2 linked regions of the Homo sapiens genome follow. The gene in region 1 interacts genetically with each later gene. Each region holds a gene or a part of one and is shown on either strand. Other genes may lie near its edges. The genes, in order: RET and PTK6.

The links.
Region 2: changes in RET (region 1) and PTK6 together harm fitness less than expected from each alone (positive genetic interaction), as found in Homo sapiens cells (one large-scale study listed by BioGRID).

The regions. Positions count from the first base shown.
Region 1 is NC_000010.11:43,111,569-43,115,380, forward strand, and holds part of RET (proto-oncogene tyrosine-protein kinase receptor Ret isoform a precursor), read left to right. Parts: intron 1-530; coding exon 531-656; intron 657-1,284; coding exon 1,285-1,395; intron 1,396-1,987; coding exon 1,988-2,107; intron 2,108-2,911; coding exon 2,912-3,168; intron 3,169-3,812. UniProt on the Homo sapiens protein: Receptor tyrosine-protein kinase involved in numerous cellular mechanisms including cell proliferation, neuronal navigation, cell migration, and cell differentiation in response to glia cell line-derived growth family factors (GDNF, NRTN, ARTN, PSPN and GDF15).
Region 2 is NC_000020.11:63,530,752-63,534,501, reverse strand, and holds part of PTK6 (protein-tyrosine kinase 6), read left to right. Parts: intron 1-186; coding exon 187-350; intron 351-797; coding exon 798-951; intron 952-1,814; coding exon 1,815-1,976; intron 1,977-3,574; coding exon 3,575-3,750. UniProt on the Homo sapiens protein: Non-receptor tyrosine-protein kinase implicated in the regulation of a variety of signaling pathways that control the differentiation and maintenance of normal epithelia, as well as tumor growth.

The sequences.
Region 1 (3,812 bases):
GGAGTGGGGAAGGCATGGACCAGCTTCACCCTGAGTGACCCAGCAGTAAATGGTTGCTCCTTCCAGATAACATACAGGACCTTGGGTAAATTTGAATTTTGGGTAAACAACAAGCAGTTTTTTGGTATAGGTGTGTTCCATGCAACTTTTGCAGCTTCTCGAAAGACACACCTCTAGGTCCATCCATGCCCTCTTAGGAACATGCTGACACAGCTGCCATTCATGCCATTCATTGTGTATCTGAAATGTAGGTCCCACAGGGCGTCGTTGGCTGAATCTGGCTGCACTCACATCCTTCCTCCTGTACTTACCCCAGCCCAGGTGACCCCTGCTTTGTGACCATGATGTCCTGTACCCTGCCCTGCGCCCTGTGCTCCTGGCACTGTCTTTGCTGCCCTGGGTCTGTCACTCCGGTCCCCTTGGGCTCCATCCGTGGGCAGCTCAGCTGGTGCTGTTCCCTGTCCTTGGGCACTAGCTGGACGCTGGGCCCAGGCCAGCCCCCTGTGACCCTGCTTGTCTGCCACCTGCAGATGTGGCCGAGGAGGCGGGCTGCCCCCTGTCCTGTGCAGTCAGCAAGAGACGGCTGGAGTGTGAGGAGTGTGGCGGCCTGGGCTCCCCAACAGGCAGGTGTGAGTGGAGGCAAGGAGATGGCAAAGGTAAGCCCTGGAAACGCCCAAGGGAGGCCTGCAGGGGCGATGGCACCGGTGGAAACGGGGTCCTGGGGCCCTGCCAGCCTGGGGTGGCTCTCCCTGCTCCAGGTCTGCTTCTGGCACCTCATCCCCCATGTGGCTCTCGATGCCAGCATAGCGGGCAGCAGTGCAGGGCTTGGGAGAGGGCTTGTGAGTACAGTGAATGGTCCCCAGGCCGGATTCACTCTGGACTTGGGAAGGTCTGAACCAAAGTTGGGATGTGCTGGGGACAGAATGGCGTTTTTCTGGGAGGTCCTCGGCCAGGGGATGTGGTGTGGGCAGGGGACTCATTGTCTGCATCAGCCAGAGGCCAGCCTGGGTGTGCCCACCACCATGAGGGGCCCTCACCATGCAGCCCTGAGAGGGTCCCGGCCTCTTTGCTGTAAGGGCCACCTGTGTGAGGAACCCCCCATACCTCCTCTCCCATAAGCCATGGCTCCCCAGGATGCTTCCGCTGGCAAGGCTCTGTATATGGTGTTTCCCTACTCAGGCCTCCAGTTGCTCCTCCCTAGAGGGGCAGGATCTGCCTAGGAGGTGGTGGGGGCGTGTGGCGGGGCTCCCACATGGGTGACAGCCTGCTGTGTGTCCTGTGCAGGGATCACCAGGAACTTCTCCACCTGCTCTCCCAGCACCAAGACCTGCCCCGACGGCCACTGCGATGTTGTGGAGACCCAAGACATCAACATTTGCCCTCAGGACTGCCTCCGTAAGCAGGGTTTAATCAGGGCATGGGAACAGGTAGGAGATAGTAGGGGAAACCTGGATCCCACAGGCACTTCAGCCAGAGTTGCCAGGGCTGTCAGTTCTATGCATCAAGCTGAGCCTCCTGTGCATTTCAGCATCACCCTAGCCATGGGGAGGGAGCAGGCAGGGTCAGGGACAGGGGGAAGGCAGGGACCCACAGACTGTCCAGGCCCCTGCTGAGGTCCCAGAAGTCGGCACACACAGATTTCAGAAGCAGAGAATGGTCAGTAGGGACACTGACAGGGAAAGTGCGGCCCTGAGCCAGACGAGGGACACTGCAATGTGCGGGTCAGGCCACCAGGCTCCAGTTTTGGAGGCAGAGTCCTTTGTTCAGATGAAATGTTAGGAGGGGGCCTGGCTTCACCCATGGCTTCAGAAAGGCACTGTGACCAAGCCCTGCCCGGCTAAGCCAAGCTGCTGGGCCCCTGGCCTCACTGGGCCTATGCTTGCGACACCAGTTGGGGAGGGGGCTCCTTGGGACACTGCCCTGGAAATATGGGCGCCTGGGGTGGTCAGGCGCCCCAGGAGGCTGAGTGGGCTACGTCTGCCCTCAGGGGGCAGCATTGTTGGGGGACACGAGCCTGGGGAGCCCCGGGGGATTAAAGCTGGCTATGGCACCTGCAACTGCTTCCCTGAGGAGGAGAAGTGCTTCTGCGAGCCCGAAGACATCCAGGGTGAGTGGGTGGCGGCCGGGACCACCACCACCTCCCAGCCCCACAGAGGTCTCAACAGCACATCTGAGGTCCCAACAAGGGAGGAAATTGCTGGGAGGCGAGTGGGCCCCATGAAACTTCCCTCCCTCCCTCTGGGCCTCTGTTACTCCACCCAGGAGAGGGGCCAGGGCCCCTGTAAAGTGTCTTCTGGCCATAAGTTCTATGATGGACAGGCCAGAAAAGCAGTTCTTCCACCAAACAACTTGTCAGCCTGACAAGTCACTGTCCCTGTGACCATGCAGCTGGGACCCACCCAGGAACACATTTCAAGGTCAGCAGGTATGGTGGGTTGCACAGCCACACTGACTACACTCAGGGGTGCTGTTCTGCCTGAGCATAGGGACACGTTTCTGTCATTGAGTTTTCTGGTATTATATAGCCCTACGTCCCTAGCCACTTAGCATTTTCATAAAGAAAATGCCAAAGACATTTGGAACAGAGGAAAATTTTGACCTCCCCTGCCAGCCCTCCAGTGCCAGCTGGTGTAATGAGCACAGCCTCTGCTGTGTGACCTTGGCAGGCTGCTCAGCCTCTCTGAGCCTCTGTCTCCATCTGTAAGAGGGCAATAGTGGTCTAGGAGGGGGCAGTAAATGGCAGTACCCATGCTCGATGGGGTGTTCTCAGGCCTTCCCACACCTCCATGGCCACTTCCCAGCTGGCGCGGACACGGCAGGCTGGAGAGCCATGAGGCAGAGCATACGCAGCCTGTACCCAGTGGTGCCGAGCCTCTGGCGGTGCCAAGCCTCACACCACCCCCACCCACAGATCCACTGTGCGACGAGCTGTGCCGCACGGTGATCGCAGCCGCTGTCCTCTTCTCCTTCATCGTCTCGGTGCTGCTGTCTGCCTTCTGCATCCACTGCTACCACAAGTTTGCCCACAAGCCACCCATCTCCTCAGCTGAGATGACCTTCCGGAGGCCCGCCCAGGCCTTCCCGGTCAGCTACTCCTCTTCCGGTGCCCGCCGGCCCTCGCTGGACTCCATGGAGAACCAGGTCTCCGTGGATGCCTTCAAGATCCTGGTGAGGGTCCCTGCGGGGCAGGGAAGATCCCCTGCCCTCCCCAGCTGCCTTCCAGGGAGGGAGGCCAGCTGGGGAGACAGAGGCCATCCTGTGAGGGGCTGCCAACGCTGGGCAGACGAGGCCTGTGTTCTGCCCCCATTTCCATAGGGCGCTGTGTGGGGACAGTCTGTGGGGTGGGACTGTGATGAGGTGCCGTTCCCATCTAGGTGAGAGGCAGTGGTCAGGGTCACAGCATCGGGCAGGGGAGCAGCAGTGTGGATGGAGGGGCACTGAAGTCAGAAGGGGGTGCCTTTCTGGGGAGCCTGGCCTGCAGGTCTGCATGTGCTACTCAGAGCCTCCAGGCTGTGCCGAGTATCCTGGAGCCTCCTTGTCCCGGCCAGGCAGGCCTCTGCCCTCTCCTGGTGGTGGCCTGCCCCTTCAGTGTTCCTACTAGCACTGTCCAGGGCGCTGGAAGCCAAGCCCAGTTCTGGAAGTAACAGAGGCTCAGAGCCAAGGGTGTGAGTGAACGGTGAGCCACGCAGCTTATGGTGGCGTGAATAGCTCCTCGGCAGGAGCCTCCAGGGAGGAAGCTGAGCACCCAGTGGCCACAGGGCCCTGGCAGTTCCCATCTCAGGCTGGGAGGTGGCCTGGGATTCCTGGGAGGG
Region 2 (3,750 bases), on another chromosome or scaffold:
GCTTGGCCAGAGCGTGCAGGGCAGGAGGGAGCCGTTCTGAGGGAGGGGAGGCAGGGGTGGTACTGAGGAAGCACCAACAGCAACTGTGGGGACCCAGAAACTCTGCGCAGGTGTGGCCAGCAGGGCTGGGGACGCAGGGAGGCGTCGGAGTTGGGGTGGCCACACAGCTCACGCTCTCCCTCCCAGTGCGGGACACGCAGGCTGTGCGGCACTACAAGATCTGGCGGCGTGCCGGGGGCCGGCTGCACCTGAACGAGGCGGTGTCCTTCCTCAGCCTGCCCGAGCTTGTGAACTACCACAGGGCCCAGAGCCTGTCCCACGGCCTGCGGCTGGCCGCGCCCTGCCGGAAGGTAGCCGCTCCGCCCTGACTTGGTCACGCGGGGTCAGGCTGGGGGGTCACAGGCTGGCATTTCCTACTGGGAGAGGTTGGCCGGGCAGCATGGGAGGGGTCCTGACTCACTGACCTGGGGCCCACTGGAGGGAAGCCCATGGTTCTGCAGAGCACAGGTGTTTGCCTGAGTTGGGGGTGGGGCCAGGAGACCATCCCCGGGCCTGGCCACTCTCGGAGAGGCCAGCGGCACTCTGCAGGGTCCTGGCTCCGGTCTGTCTGGGTGTTTCATGCTGGGCTGGGGGCAGCCCCCAGGAGAGTCCACCCTTGTGTCAGACACTCAGAAACCCCCAACCCAGGCTGATCGTGGCCCTAAATCTGAGGCTAAATCCAGGCTCCCTGTGCTGGCTTCAGACTGGCACTTCCTGAAGGATGAGCCCCTGCCCTGTGTCCCCGACTCTTCCTCCAGCACGAGCCTGAGCCCCTGCCCCATTGGGATGACTGGGAGAGGCCGAGGGAGGAGTTCACGCTCTGCAGGAAGCTGGGGTCCGGCTACTTTGGGGAGGTCTTCGAGGGGCTCTGGAAAGACCGGGTCCAGGTGGCCATTAAGGTGATTTCTCGAGGTGAGTGGGCCCCGATCAGGGCTCTGTGTGGCCCCGTGCCTGCCCTGGGCCACCCTCCCACCCCGCCAACAGGGACCTCTGGCCTCGAGCCCCAAGCAGCACCCACAGCGTCCATGCGAGAGTGGTTCCCTTTCAATTGCACCTATGTTTTTACCTAAATACATTTATTATAAAAGAAAATTTTAGGCCGGGCACGGTGGCTCACATCTGTAATCCCCACACTTTGGGAAGCCAAGGTGGGCGGATCACGAGGTCAGGAGTTTGAGACCAGCCTGGCCAACATGGGGAAACCACGTCTCTACTAAAAATACAAAAATTAGCCGAGTGTGGAGGCATGTGCCTGTAGTCCCAGCTACTCGGGAGGCTGAGGCAGGAGAATCGCTTCAACCCAGGAGGCGGAGATTGCAGTGAGCTGAGATCGCGCCATTGCACTCCAGCCTGGGCGACAGAGCAAGACCCCGTCTTGGGAAAAAAAAAAAAGAAAGAAAGAAAGAAAATTTAAAATCCTTGACGTAATGGAAAGCCATTAAAATAGATCACTGGAAATGGGTAAAACTTCCCTGGAACCCGTCTGGGCCCCAGCAGAGGTCTGGCCTCTATGTCAGAGGTCTGGGCCGGGCACAGGAAGAAATCGGGTGGCCACCACAGCCCCGTGGGTACGCCAGGCTGGGGCCCTGTGGGGCCGGCTGCATCTGCCATTTCGTGGCCTCGGGAGCCAGGTGCCCTGTCGGGGGCAGGAGGTCTGTGTGTCCTGCACAGCTGCTGGGTGTGATGGCTGCTGTGTGTGGGGGCAGGGCCTTGGCCTCTTCCTTGGGGCCTGGGGGGTCAGGGGCTGCATCCACCGAGGCCACCCGTCCCCGCAGACAACCTCCTGCACCAGCAGATGCTGCAGTCGGAGATCCAGGCCATGAAGAAGCTGCGGCACAAACACATCCTGGCGCTGTACGCCGTGGTGTCCGTGGGGGACCCCGTGTACATCATCACGGAGCTCATGGCCAAGGGCAGCCTGCTGGAGCTGCTCCGCGGTGAGTGGCATGGGCCGGGGCTCTTGCTGGAGGCAGCGGGGGCACGTGAGGAAATAAAGTGCACACCCCCCCCCCACGTCTACACACACACACACGTAGACACACAGACACACAGACACACACATGCACACACAGACACAGACACAGACACACAGAGACACACACGCACAGACACACATGCACACACACATGCACACAGACATACACATGCACACACAGACACACACACAAGACACATCACATGACACACACAGACATACACATAGACACAGACACACACACAGAGACACACAAAACAGATCACACGGACACACACAGACACACACACAGATCACACGGACACACACAGACACACACACACACAGACACACACTGATCCAGACACACACACAGACACACACAGATCACATTGGCTCAAAGACTTCATCCTCTCTAAGTTCCATTATTTCCTTTCTCACCAAAACCAAAGACAATCGCTGCCAGGGAATGGAGATGCCCGTGCGTGAAGGCGCAGTTTGGATTCCGATGTTAGAATGGGAGGGAACGTTGTGGTATAGGAAAAATGCCGTGTGTGTCTGAGGAGAGCTACACTGAGGCACCACGCACGTTTGCGCTCTGAGCGAAAGGCTCCGTACCCCTCGCCCTCACACAAAGGGCTTGATCATCTCAGACAGTCCCCACGCCCTTCAGGGTCCTCCGGGAGGGAATGTGGGGTAAAACAGGCACCACCAGGCCGCAAGCCGCTGACAGCCATTCTCCTGTTCGAGTTCCCACTGCCTACATCACGCAGTCATGAGCCTCTTCGCTGGTCCTTCTGCGTCCAGCTCCTCCCGCGTCATCACAAACTTCCAGAAGGGAAATCGCTGGGCTAGACCACTAGGAACTGCTCCTTGGTTCTTTTTTTTTTTTTTGAGACGGAGTCTCACTCTGTCGCCCAGGCTGGAGTGCAATGGCGCAGTCTCGGCTCACTGTAACCTCCACCTCCTGGGTTCAAATGATTCTCCTGCCTCAGCCACCTGAGTAGCTGAGATTACAGGCACCTGTCACCACGCCCAGCTAATTATATATATATATATATATATATATATTTTTTTTTTTTTTTTTTGAGACGGAGTCTGGCTCTGTCGCCCAGGCTGGAGTGCAGTGGCGTGATCTCGGCTCACTGCAAGCTCCGCCTCCCGGGTTCACGCCATTCTCCTGCCTCAGCCTCCCGAGTAGCTGGGACTACAGGCGCCCGCCACCACGCCCGGCTAATTTTTTGTATTTTTAGTAGAGATGGGGTTTCACCGTGTTAGCCAGGATGGTCTCGATCTCCTGACCTCGTGATCCATCCGCCTCAGCCTCTCAAAGTGCTGGGATTACAGGCGTGAGCCACCACGCCCAGCTTGCTCCTTGGTTCGTGATAAACAGTTGCCTTCCAGAAGGGCGGTAGCTGGCCTGCAGTTCCAATTTTCAATCAGGCCAGCTGCCCTTTGCCCCGGCCCCTCCTCTGAGCCCGCAGAGCTTGGAGGCAGATGAGACATGGCCCAGCCTCCCCAACCCTTCCCCACCTCAGCTGGCTCAGCTGACCCCAGGCTCTGCTCCACTCCCCTCTGCAGACTCTGATGAGAAAGTCCTGCCCGTTTCGGAGCTGCTGGACATCGCCTGGCAGGTGGCTGAGGGCATGTGTTACCTGGAGTCGCAGAATTACATCCACCGGGACCTGGCCGCCAGGAACATCCTCGTCGGGGAAAACACCCTCTGCAAAGTTGGGGACTTCGGGTTAGCCAGGCTT